Linked DNA regions of Homo sapiens: regions 2, 3 and 4 are each reported to be linked to region 1. Evidence: microRNA targets listed by miRTarBase, many of them from high-throughput screens and not tested one by one. Region 1 holds a microRNA gene; each other region holds the end of a gene's coding sequence.
Evidence for each region. Region 1 holds the annotated microRNA hsa-miR-4747-5p (AGGGAAGGAGGCUUGGUCUUAG, at 1,307-1,328, shown strand). A microRNA usually pairs through its seed, bases 2 to 8, with sites in the 3' UTR of a target mRNA and lowers its output. Matches are read on the target gene's strand: a 7mer-m8 pairs with bases 2 to 8, a 7mer-A1 pairs with bases 2 to 7 and ends in A, and an 8mer does both.

Region 2: the mRNA of TPD52L2 is a reported target of hsa-miR-4747-5p. Seed matches in the 3' UTR shown: 7mer-m8 at 854-860.
Region 3: the mRNA of NOL10 is a reported target of hsa-miR-4747-5p. The part of its 3' UTR that is shown has no 7-base or 8-base seed match.
Region 4: the mRNA of CLPX is a reported target of hsa-miR-4747-5p. Seed matches in the 3' UTR shown: 7mer-A1 at 2,121-2,127 and 7mer-A1 at 667-673.

What each region holds. Positions count from the first base shown.
Region 1 is chr19:4,931,381-4,934,380 of GRCh38, forward strand. MIR4747 (microRNA 4747) reads left to right here and starts at 1,307; the gene lies at 1,307-1,360. UHRF1 (ubiquitin like with PHD and ring finger domains 1) reads left to right here. Exons shown (of 17, transcript NM_001048201.3): 5 at 1,361-1,576.
Region 2 is chr20:63,889,489-63,892,659 of GRCh38, forward strand. TPD52L2 (TPD52 like 2) reads left to right here. Exons shown (of 7, transcript NM_003288.4): 7 at 362-2,050. The coding sequence ends at 457. Among named protein-coding and RNA genes, the nearest start is that of DNAJC5, 4.1 kb to the right of the region's middle.
Region 3 is chr2:10,569,300-10,572,299 of GRCh38, reverse strand. It overlaps NOL10 (nucleolar protein 10), which reads left to right. Exons shown (of 21, transcript NM_024894.4): 21 at 110-1,546. The coding sequence ends at 229. Among named protein-coding and RNA genes, the nearest start is that of NOL10, 120 kb to the left of the region's middle.
Region 4 is chr15:65,147,817-65,150,987 of GRCh38, forward strand. CLPX (caseinolytic mitochondrial matrix peptidase chaperone subunit X) reads right to left here. Exons shown (of 14, transcript NM_006660.5): 14 at 403-3,097. The coding sequence ends at 3,007. Among named protein-coding and RNA genes, the nearest start is that of PDCD7, 16 kb to the left of the region's middle.

The DNA of each region.
Region 1 (3,000 bases):
ATTCTCCTGCCTCAGCCTCCTGAGTAGCTGGGACTACAGGTGCCCGCCACCACACCCAGCTAATGTTTGTATTTTTATTTTATTTTATTTTTATTTTATTTTTTCGAGACAGAGTCTTACTCTGTCACTCAGGCTAGAGTGCAATGGCGTGGTCTCAGCTCACTGCAACCTCCGCCTCCCAGGTTCAAGCGATTCTCCTGCCTCAGCCTCCCAAGTAGCTGGGATTACAGGTGTGTGGCCACCACGCCTGGCTAATTTTTGTATTTTCAGAAGAGATGGGGTTTCACTATGTAGGTGAGGCTGGTCTCAAACTTCTGACCTCGTGTTCCGCCCGCCTCAGCCTCCCAGAGTGTTGGGATTACAGGTGTGAGCCACTGTGCCCAGCTTATTTTATTTTTTTGAGACAGTTTCACTCTGTCCCCCAGGCTGGAGTGCAATGGTGTGATCTTGGCTCATTGCACCCTCCATCTCCCGGGTTCAAACGATTCTCCTGCCTCAGCCTCCCAAGTGGCTGGGACTACAGGCGTGCACCACTGCGCCCAGCTAATTTTTGTTTTTGTTTTGTTTTTGAGACAGAGTTTCACTCTTGTTGCCCAGGCTGGCGTCAATGGCGCGATCTCGGCTCACCGCAACCTCTGCCTCCCGGGTTCAAGCAATTCTGCCTCAGCCTCCCGAGTAGCTGGGATTACAGGCATGCGCCACCACGCCTGGCTAATTTTGTATTTTTAGTAGAGATGGGGTTTCTCCATGTTGGCTGGTCTCCAACTTCCGACCTCAGATGATCTGCCTGCCTCAGCCTCCCAAAGTGCTGGGATTACAGGCATGAGCCACCGTGCCCGGCCATGCCTGGCTAATTTTTGTATTTTTAGTAGAGGCAGGGTTTCACCGTGTTGGTCAGGCTGGTCTTGAACTCCTGACCTCAGGTGATCTTCCCGCTTCGGCCTCCCAAAGTGCTGGGATTACAGGCGTGGGCCACCTTGCCCGGCCTCTCCTCTTGTTCTAAAGACACCAGTCCTGTTGGATTGGGGCCCACCCTACTGCAGTGTGATCTCATCTTAATATGATTTCATCTGCAAAGGTTCTATCTACAAAGACCCTGTTTCCAAAAACAATCCTATTCGTGGGTACTGGGGATCAGCCTTTGAACATCTCTTTTTGCAGGGGACACGGGCAACCCATAACAATTTTGTACCTGGAATGTGCCTTAATATACCTGTGTGTTCTCAACACCAGCATATAAGCCTGTTGGGAGGGGCCTCTGCACACTGTCGGGAGGGGCCGTCCCACCTCGGCTCGTTTCCCATTGAGGGAAGGAGGCTTGGTCTTAGCACGGGGTCTAAGGCCCGGGCTTTCCTCCCAGCTACCCGGAGAACGGCGTGGTCCAGATGAACTCCAGGGACGTCCGAGCGCGCGCCCGCACCATCATCAAGTGGCAGGACCTGGAGGTGGGCCAGGTGGTCATGCTCAACTACAACCCCGACAACCCCAAGGAGCGGGGCTTCTGGTACGACGCGGAGATCTCCAGGAAGCGCGAGACCAGGACGGCGCGGGAACTCTACGCCAACGTGGTGCTGGGGTGAGCCTCGCGTCCTGGGGCGAGCCCTTCCTCTCTCCTTTCCTCCCCTCCCGGGGCCCCCGGACTGGCTTTGAAGCCGTCCAGCCAGCGCTGTGTGTGCGAGGCCCTTAGCCTCCGGCCTGGCCTTCCTGCCTCCCCTCTGGGGTCTGTTCCTGCTCACTGCTGAGCATCTTTCTAAGACCGACCACCTTGTGCCCCTGAGTGCCTCTGCCCAGGGAACTGTCTCTGACCCCCAGGCCCTGACAGGCAGAGTTGTCAAACTTCCTTTTTCTCATGGTGTTTTTTTTATCGCTCTGTTGCCCAGGCTGGAGTGCAGTGGTTCGATCTCGGTTCACTGCAAGCTCTGCCTCCTGGGTTCATGCCATTCTCCTGCCTCAGCCTCCCGAGTAGCTGGGACTACAGGCGTCTACCACCACACCTGGCTAATTTTTTTGTATTTTTAGTAGAGACGGGGTTTCACCGTTAACCAGGATGGTCTCGATCTCCTGACCTCGTGATCTGCCTGCCTCGGCCTCCCAAAGTGCTGGGATTGCAGGCAGTGAGCCACCGTGCCTGGCCTCAAGCTTTCTTTTTCTCTCTTGTTTGTTTCAAATTTGGTGAATAGGTCCCATTCACAGGGTCAAAATAGAAAGCACCCAAGACCACACATGAAGGTTCTCCCTCCTCTGCCTGGTCACCCAGTTCCCCTTTTTGGCGACATCACTGTTACCAACTTTCCAGGGACATTCTGTTCATAAACATACACGCCAAACCACACCGCTTAGGAGTTGGCAAACTGCAGTCCACAGGCCTGCTGTGGTCCGCTGCCGGCTTTGACTAATAGTTTTATTGGGACGTGGTCACACCCATTTTTATCTTATTACCTGTGGTTGCTTTTGTGTTATAAGAGCAGAGTTGTGTAGTTGCAACAGAGACTATGCGGCCTACAAAGCTGAAAATCCTTCCTATTTGGCCATTTGCAGAATCATTTTGCAAAGCCTGTTCTTTCTCCCTTGCCTCTTTGTGTGTGTGTGTGCGTGTGTGTGTGTGTGTGTGTGTGTGATAAAATGTATGTAACAGAAAATTTACCTTTTTTTTTTTTTTAAAAGACAGAGTCTCCCTCTGTCGCCCAGGCTGGGGTATAGTGGCATGATCTTGGCTCACTGCAGCCTCCGCCTTCCAGGTTCAGGTGATTCTCCTGCCTCAGCCTCCCAAGTAGTTGGGATTACAGGCGCCCGCCACCACGTCTGGCTAATTTTTGTATATATATATATATTTAGTAGAGTCTGGGTTTCACCATGTTGGCCAGGCTGGTCTCGAACTCCTGACCTCAAGTGATTCGCCCGCCTCAGCCTCCCACAGTGCTGGGATTACAGGCATGAGCCACTGCGCCCGGCCAAAAATTTACCATTGGAACCATGTTTAAGCGCACAGTTCGGTGGCAT
Region 2 (3,171 bases), not on the chromosome of region 1:
CCACTGCCCTTCCTGGTCCCCACTGCCCTTCCTGGTACCTTCTTGGCCATGCTGACCTTCCTCCCGCCCTACCCCCGGCAACCCCTAGTCCACTCTCCCTTTGTATAATTGTGTCATTTCAAGAATGTCACGTAAATGGAACGATACAGTGTGCAGCTTTTTGGCATTCACTGTCTTCATTTGGCATCGTTCTCTGGAGACCTGTTGGGGCTGGTGCCCGTCCGTGATTTGCTCCCTGTCCCTGCTGAGCAGTGTTCGTGTTACATAAGCTTTTGTAGAGCATTGAGCATGGGCCTGGGATCTGCCTTGTGTTGTGTGCTCTGTCTCAGGTTTTTCTGTCTTCATCTTTTCTCTCCTGTAGTCTAAGGTTGTGGGTGACAGAGAGAACGGCAGTGACAACCTCCCTTCCTCAGCGGGGAGTGGTGACAAGCCCCTGTCGGATCCCGCACCTTTCTAAGCCTGTGGTTGCTTCACCCGCTGCAGAGCACACGCAACCCAGCCTCAGCATCACAGCCGCAGCTCTGTTCAGCGGAGCAGCCAGCCAGGGCGGATGAGCAGAGCCGGCCCTGAGGACAGTCCTGCCCATCCACGCGGAGATGTGGCTGCCGCGTTTGCATGAATTTGAAGAACACAGGCTTGTACACAGATGTTTTACACTCACGTTTGTAGATGAAACAGATCACTGTGCTGTCCTTCCTAGGGGTGCAGGAAGTGGACAGGGCGGAGGGTTTGAAAGAATATTGAGCCAAAGCCCAGGCTCCCTTTGGGAATCATGTTAGCCCATCAGAATGTTGAAGGATTGAAGAGTTCTAAGCATAAAATAAGTGGCATTTTCTGACTTCTTCCTCCTCCTCCTTCCCTGACTCACAGAAGGAATGCAATCACCCAGCAAGTCCTACCTGTTACGCAATTTTTTATCTCAAAATGCCGAACGAGAAAACTGTCCATTTTCTGAGACCCCCAGAAAGGAAACTGACCCTCAGCAGCTGCCTGATTGTTACGCGAATCTAGCTTTAACGGAAGCAAATTCATTATTTTTTAAATGCAGTGGACTTTTCAAAAAGTTTAAATTAGGCAAAGCAGCTTTAGCCTCATAGAATATTATTTCTTTGGACTCAAGCTGAAATACAAGCCTTACATTGCCTTATGCTTTATTTCTTTCTAATTTTTATATGTATATAGATGAGGGTTCCTTAATGGTTGTGAGCATTGTGTGGAATTTTACACCTGGCCTGCGTGGCAGCCTCTTCCAGTTGAGGTGTTTTATGTCACGCACACTCCATCCCAGTGTACAAAACCTGCTTCTCTTCTCAACCGTGGCAGCTCCCGCTGGCTCCTATGCCCTGCCCTAAAGGGCTCTTGAGCCTCTGGGAATGGGAGGGGCCAAGAGAAGGAAAACCCTGTCTTTAGCACCCTTTAAAAGAACTGTGCCCCCCTTCTCAGTGCTGCCTTTGCATGGGCCTGGCCCGGCTCACATTCGTCAGTGACTCCAACCCTCCTGCTTGCTGTACTTGGGATGAAACGACCCCACAGGTCAGGTGGAGGGTGGGGCGTGGGCATCAGCCAGGATTGCCGTTACAGTCTTTTTCTCAGGAGCTACAAAGATCTCTTCCTGTTACTAAATAGTCGCACCCCAGCAGCCTCTCTCGCACACCGGGGCCCTGCATGTCAGATGGCGTGGTCTGCAGGGGGAGCTCTGTGCCTTAGTGGCTCTTGGCAGGACACTGAGGGCCTGCCTGTGGTGTGCCCGGCTCTGCCACTCCCGGGAGGGGAAGGGCTGCTCAGCTCAAGGTGTCCTGTTCGGTAGAGCAAGTGTCCTCTGACAGCCGTGTCCCCGGACAGTTCAGACACCCTTGGGGATGGCACTCCACACACGACAGAGATGCAGGGGCCAGGGAAGCCCAGCGCTCGGTGCCCTTCGTCCAGGGTTAAAATCGGCCTGTGGGGTGTGGTGAGAAGGCAGGTTGTGCGGGTGTTGACCGATGTATCTTTTCCTTAAAGTTATTATAATAATGGGTAATTTGTCAATAAAGCATTCCTTTGGGGGAAAGTCCGCCTCGGCTTGTGTGATGTATCGTTCGGGACCATGATAAGAGTGGTAAATGAACTGGCACACGGTACCTGCCCTAATGAGTCCGCACCCTTGGGAGAGGCAGGCAGGGGACAGTGCTAAAGACAAAGGGCAGGTCCTCAATGCTGGGACAAGGGGAGCCAGCTGTGAGGGGAGAATGGTATATGGCCAACCTGTGAGGTCAGACCCAGCGTCTTGGGAAGAGGAGTTGAAACTGAGCCCCAGGAGGCGGAGGAGGAGCTCACCAGGCTCCAGGTTGGGCCGGGAGCTCCAGAGGCTTCGCCAGCTGCCCCTGCAAGCACTGAGCTGCTGCTGAGCACACCTGTAGTCCCCGCCATTCTGGAGGGTGAGGCAGATCACCTGAGCCCAGGAGTTCAGGACCAGCCTGGGCAGCATACCGGGATTCCATCTCAACTAAAAACAGTAGGCTGGGTGTGGTGGCTCATGTCTGTAAGCTCAGGACTTTGGAAGGCCAAGATGGGAGGATCACTTGAGCCTGGGAGTTTGACACCAGCTTGAGCATCGTAGCCAGGCCCTGACTCTACAAAAAAGTGAAATAATTAGCCGAGTGTGGTGGTTCACACCTGTAATCCCAGCTGCTCAGGAGGCTGAGGTAGGAGAATCATTTGAACCCGGGAGGTGGAGGTTGCAGTTAGCCGAGATCACGCCATTGCACTCCGGCCTGGGCGATAAAGCGAGACTCTGTCTCAAAAAAAAAAAAAAAAAAGAAAAAGAAAAAGGAAAAGACCCTTGAGGGGGAACCTCCACTCTGCCCCTGGTCTGGCGCTTTGCATGTATCCATTCCTAGTCTTTGGAGTTCCCACTGGAAAACTAGTGGGAGCACCAGTCTTCCTTTGGAGGTCAGAGGTAGCTGGGCTCACCCCAGATGTAAGAGCAGGGAAAGTTAGGTGACCTCGAATTGTATGGTACATAAGCCCCAATACAGCAGGGAGCTGGTACCAATAAAGGGTGAAATGCACTATTGCCGCCTGCAGTCAAGATTTACACTAATTTATTTTGGAATGAGTTCATGTGTTCTTCATTTATTGAACAGATACTGTAACTGCCCTGCGGGTAAGAGTCTGCTAGGTTTTGTGGGG
Region 3 (3,000 bases), not on the chromosome of region 1:
GGCAGCAGTTCTGAGATTGGTGGTGGTACTGTTGGCAGCCTGACGGTTACCAGAAAAGAGGTATAGAATTTTCTCTCTTTCCCTCTACTCATTTCATTTTCTCTTTTAGTCTGAACAGCAGAAGAAGCAACAGGAGGCTGAGAAACTGCATCGACAAGAAAGGAAAAGACTCCGTCGTTCGGCCGGACACCTGAAGTCAAGACACAAAAGAGGACGGTCGTTTCATTGATTTGGGAAGTGGTCCTACCTGTGATTAGGGAGGGGTACGTCTCCCCCAAACTGATCATCGTTAGGGTGTTAAACACAGACGAGGAAACACACGTTTTTAAAGTTCATGTACGTTCTTGTACACAGAGGTAAAGATTTGAAAACCTGTGCCTTGTGGGTTGGACTTTGAAGCTGGCCCCGCCGACGGCCACCGCACAGCCCCAGGGGTGTGCTTGCGAGTCGTTGCTCCCTGGAAACATTGTCCTTTCCCCACGGCGTTAATCATGAAAACCAGGCTGGGGTTTTTTTAATATTGTGAAATGTACACCATGAAATGAAAGGTTTATCCTGTGCCAGAAACCAAGGTTTATCATGCTCTAGGAACTTTTTTCTTACACTGCCTACCGCCATTCATGATTAAACCATCCAGAAATACCATCCCTGTTTTACCTGGTGTCTGTGTATTGCCTGTGTTTGTGTTTATAAGTTTATGCTGATAGGTTTGTTCGGCTTGTTTATGTATTAGTTTGGGATTTGTTTTTAAATAATTTATACCAAGAGAGTATAATCTAATGGTGCAGGTTGAGAGCATCCCAAATCCGAAAATCTAAAACTGTTTGAGCACTGTATTTATCTGTTCTTGCACTGCTATAAAGAACTACCTGAAACTGGGTAATTTATAAGTAAAGAAAAGAGGTTTAATTGACTCACAGTTCTACAGGTGGTACAGGAAGCATGGCTGTGGAGGCCCTGGGAAGCTTACAATCGTGGCAGAAGGTGAAGCGGAAGCAGGTATGTCCTGCGTGGCTAGAGCCAGAGGAGGAGGGCAAAGGGGCAGATGCTGCACACTTTCAAACACCAGATCTCCAAGAACTCACTAACACAGAATAGCAAGGGGGAAGTCTGCCCCCATGTTTCAGTCACCTCCCTCCAGGCCCCTCCTCCAACACCGAAGATTACAATTTGACATGAGATTTGTGTGGGGACACAGAGCAAAACCATATCAAGCACTGACATGACATTGGAGGAAAATGCTCATTAGAGCTTTTCAGGTTTTGGATTTTCAGATTTGGGATACTTGACTAGTAAATATAATACAGATATTCCAAAACACACAAAAAAACCAAAGTCTAAAAGACTTCTGGTCCCAAGCATTTCAGATAAGGGATACCCAACCTGTAATAATGGGAAACAAGCAGTAGAGGCTGTTGGTTAATCTTGGCACAAGTTTAATTACAGGTTTTTTTTTTTTCCTGTTTCTTAAGTACAGTCAAACATAAACTTACTGGAGGAAACATTTATAAAAATAAATATACTTTCATTTGAATAGCTTCTTTGAGAAAGACTCCAAGAAAATTTTTTTTTCATTAGTCAAACGGTGGTGTGCACTTGTAGTCCCAGCTACTGAGGCTGAGGTGGGTTGCTTGAGCCTGAGAAGTCGAGGCCAGCCTGGACGACAGAGCAAGACCTGCGTCTCAAAAAAAGAAAGAAGAGAACCAACTTTGGTTTCCTTAGTTTTTCCAGCTTTGATGTGATTTTGGAGGTGCCTTTATAGATTTTTAAGGTTCTTTATATACAACTGAAATAGTAACTCTTTGGACTGTGAATGATACAGCCTAATTTCGAATAGCATAAGCCGAGAGGCAGAATGCATTAATTTACATCACCATGCTTGGGACATGGAACTGGCCTCAGGAACACCTAGATCCATGGCTCCACGGTCAGTCAGCTAGCACATGCGCACTCTATCTCTGTTTCCCTCTTTCTCTCTCTCTCCTTCCCCTACTCCCTCCCTTCCTCCTCCTGTCTCACCATTGTTCCTTCTCTCTTCAGGCCTCCCCTGCTGTCTTTTCCCTATGTGTTTCCCGTCCCCCTGCCTCTGCTCTCTGTGCTGCTTCTGCTTCTGTGCAGATTGGCTTGTTCCCAAGGCAGGGAACAGCTCAGCCATGTGTCCACTTCTGTGGTCCGAGAAATGAGGTCTGTTTACAGAAAAAAGGTGTGTGGAAGGTGGGGTATGTGTGTATGTTCTTGTTCCTGGGGCACCCAGCCCCATTTGTGCTGTGGTACCAGGGAGTCCTCCAGCTGTTCCAACCCCTGGACCGGTACTGTCCTTTTTCAGCTTCTTTCCCCCTAAACTCTTGCTCACTGTCCACCTCTTCTCAAAGGAAGTGGCTGCAGCTTCCTGTTGCCTTCTCTTCTCTGTTTCTACGCTGCCTCCCTCAGGGATGGGGGGTTTTAAAAATTTAGAGAGGGACATTTTGCTGGCTGGAATGTCCCCAGGGGTTGGGTGTTTATGCCCTTGGCCTGTTTCCTGACGTCAGGGTCTGTCACGTCTACTCCTGGCTTTCCCAGGCCCCTCTTTTCCTTCCTTCTTGAAGGGCCTCCTGGTTCTGTGGGGAGCCGGTATTCCGCAGGGCCAGATTCCACAGGCAGCGGTGCTCTCTGTTCACCCAGCACTGTCAGCACACCAGGAGGTCAGGACATCAGGGTAGAGGAGGAGGGCCAGGATCACTTCTGGGCACCTGGGAGGCTGGCAGTTTAGTAGAAAGAGCTTGCATTTGGAACCACCCTGACACAGGGTCGAATTCCAGGTCTGTTGCCTACTAGTTCTGTGTCTTTTGACTGTTGCCTTAATCTCTGTGAATCTCATTTCCTCCTGTAGATCAGCCTAATACTTAGTTTTTATTAGAGTAAAATGAGGCACTTACATTAGGTACAGCACCTGGCACTGTGCAAGGCTCATGAGGATTTGACAAAGCTTCTTGACCATTGAGGGTTTTCAAGAGCAGGGGA
Region 4 (3,171 bases), not on the chromosome of region 1:
TTCTGGCAAATTTCTACTTGTTCTTCCAGACTTATCTAGGCCATCACTTTCTATGTCACCACACCTGGTACCTATCTCACTTCCACTATTAAAATACACTTTAGTTTGTATTTGTTTCCCCTACAAGACTAGTAAGATTCCTGAAAAACTTGGCCTGTGTCCCTAGTGTCAAGCGGGACATTTAAGTAAGGATTTTTGATAAATGTTTAACAGACATTGTCTGTGGAATCTACAGCTAGAATTTATCTGATATGGAAGTGCCAAGGATTAATCAATCCCTAGAATGAAGCAGCTCATATGACATCTGTGCCCTTTTAAAAATGGCACTGTTTGGCTGTGCTTGTTGTTGTCAATGCAGAGTGCTCCTGCACCATTGCTGTATGGACACACCACCACGTTGGCTTTCATTTAGTCTTTTTGTTTTATTCAAATGTCAAAATGTAAGTTCCAAGATACAAATTATGTTTGATTTAAAAACATCGACTATGCTTTGTTAACAACTTCCAAAGCCAAATGTAAGTTGTTGTGACTAAAATGCCTCCCCAGTACATTTCTGGAGGATTAACCTTAATATGTTTAGCAGCTAGTCTGATTTCCACTCTACAAAAAGGAAAATGATGCTATAAGGGAAAGATAATGAACAAAGTTATAATATGTAAGACTTCCTGGGAAGAACTTGAACCATTACTAGGGAGACCAAGGAGAGGTGTTTCTGTTCCATACTATAGCAACCAGCCTTAACACTCTGTAATACAAAGTGCATTTCTGGTCCTACCCAGCCATAAATACCATACATCCCTTTTATTAATTATATCAAAGAAAGCCCAACTCTTCATCAACAAGATTTAGAATTTCCTAATAGCTTTAGTTTTTCCCTAAAAAAAACTGTGTAAAAGGAAAGCTCGAGTCTATAAACCAAAAAAAAAAACCCACAAATATTTACATGTACTCTGATTTAAACAATTTCAAATGAGATTAAACTGAATGAATATAGAACTTGTACCACCATTATAGAAGGAAAGAAAAAAAGCTTAAAAGGTACCCAAATATTTTAATATTTATGGAATTAAATGATACAATTTTCATTAAGACCCCAAATATCCCACCACTTTTTAGCTTTGCTGTATAATGAAGGTTAGTAACTTATATGTTAGTGTGAACACATTTACTTTGGCTGATAGCAAAACATAGATTTTTTAAAATGTTCTAAGAAGCCAAAGAATTAGACCAAAATGTTCAGCACCAAAAAACAAAACAAAAAAACTAGCTCAATACTTCAGGTTAAATACACAATATCAAGAAATTTTATTTAGGTCAGCACATGGCTGTTACTATGACTGATACTGCATGCTATTTCTAGAATTAGATATGTATCTTTCTGGCTGGATGCGGTGGCTCATGCCCGTAATTCTAGCACTTTCAGAGGCCAAGGTGGCCGATTGCCTGAGCTCAGGAGAGACCAGCCTGGGCAACATGGCGAAACCCCGTCTCTACTAAAAATACAAAAAATTAGCCAGGTGTGGTGGTGCACGCCTGTAGTCCCAGCTACTCAGGAGGCTGAGGCATGAGTATCGCTTGAACCTGGGACTCAGAGGTTGCAGTGAGCCAAGATTGTGGCACTGTACTCCAGCCTGGGTGACACAGCGAGACTCTGTCTCAAAAAAATAAAATAAAATAGATATATAACTTTCTGAAGATTTAAGCCAGACTTCAATTCCATGTACTCACCCATAGTACTAAAATGGATTAAAGATGGTAAATAAGGCCGGGTGTGGTGGCTTACGCCTGCAATCCCAGCACTTTGGGAGGCTGAGGCCAGCAGATCACAAGGTCAGGAGTTACAGACTAGCCTGGCCAACAGGGTGAAACCCTGTCTCTACTAAAAATACAAAAATTAGCCAGGTGTGGTGGTGCGTGCCTATAATCCCAGCTACTTGGAAGGCTGAGGCAGGAAAATTGCTTGAACCTGGGAGGCGGAGGTTGCAGTGAGCCAAGATCGCACCACTGCACTTCAGCTTGGGACAGCGTGAGACTCCGCTCAATTAAAAAAAAAAAAAAAAAAAAGATGGTAAATAAATCAGACAACTTGGTAAGAAAATGGCCTTTTTTACAGAACCAATTGGGAAGTTAGTGTCATGCATTAGCAGATAAGACTAGGAATACAGCTAAACCAATTATCAAAATATAGTTCTTCAGGGTATTTTTCAATGAAATGTTTAACTACTTGAAAACTACCTGGTCCAATTTTTTGTTTTCGCCCTGAGACGGAGTCTCACTTTGTCGCCCAGGCTGGAGTGCAGTGGCACAACCTCAGCTCACTGTAAACTCTGCCCTCCGAGTTCAAGCGATTCTCCTGCCTCAGCCTCCCGAGTAGCTGGGATTACAGGCACCTGCCACGGCACCCAGCTAATTTTTCATATTTTTAGTAGAGATGGGGTTTCACCATCTTGGCCAGGCTGGTCTTGAACTCCTGACCTCGTGATCCACCCGCCTTGGCCTCCCAAAGTGCTGGGATTACAGGCGTGAGCCACCACGCCCGGCCTACCTGGTCCAATTTTTAAGATGAATAAAATTCCAATATTTTCAGAAACACATGTGGGTAAAAAAGGTAACACTAAAGAATGGTATCTCAATATTCAATTTTAAAGAATTTATTTTCCCATTTGTAGAGTAACATTATTGTAAAATCTACAGTTATCGCAATACCTGCATTGCTTAAAAGAATTCCTAAGAATTTTGTTAAAGCATATTTTTTTTAAAAAACTGAACCAAAATAATGTACATTTTATCTCTAAACATTGTGTCATTAAAGTCCATATAACATCTTCCGTAAAATCAATGTGATGTTACAATTATATACATGATCTGATTCTTCTCCTAAAGGCTTCTCTGACCATGTATGATATCCAAGATAGATCCAATGCCTTTAATATCAGACTGTAGAGACAATTATGATCCTAAACAAAAGAAGGAAAAGCTGTATATACAAGACAGCAATATGACAGTTTAGCTGTTTGCAGCATCTGCTTGGCGGGGCCATCCTTCTTCTTCAACTCCAGAGTCATACTCCTCTTCAGAGGATTCTTTTGTTGGAGCCCTACAATGAAAAGCCATGTTTGTTTTTTTAAAATAAAAAATGGAGGTAAACATGATCTTTAAAATCAAAACAGC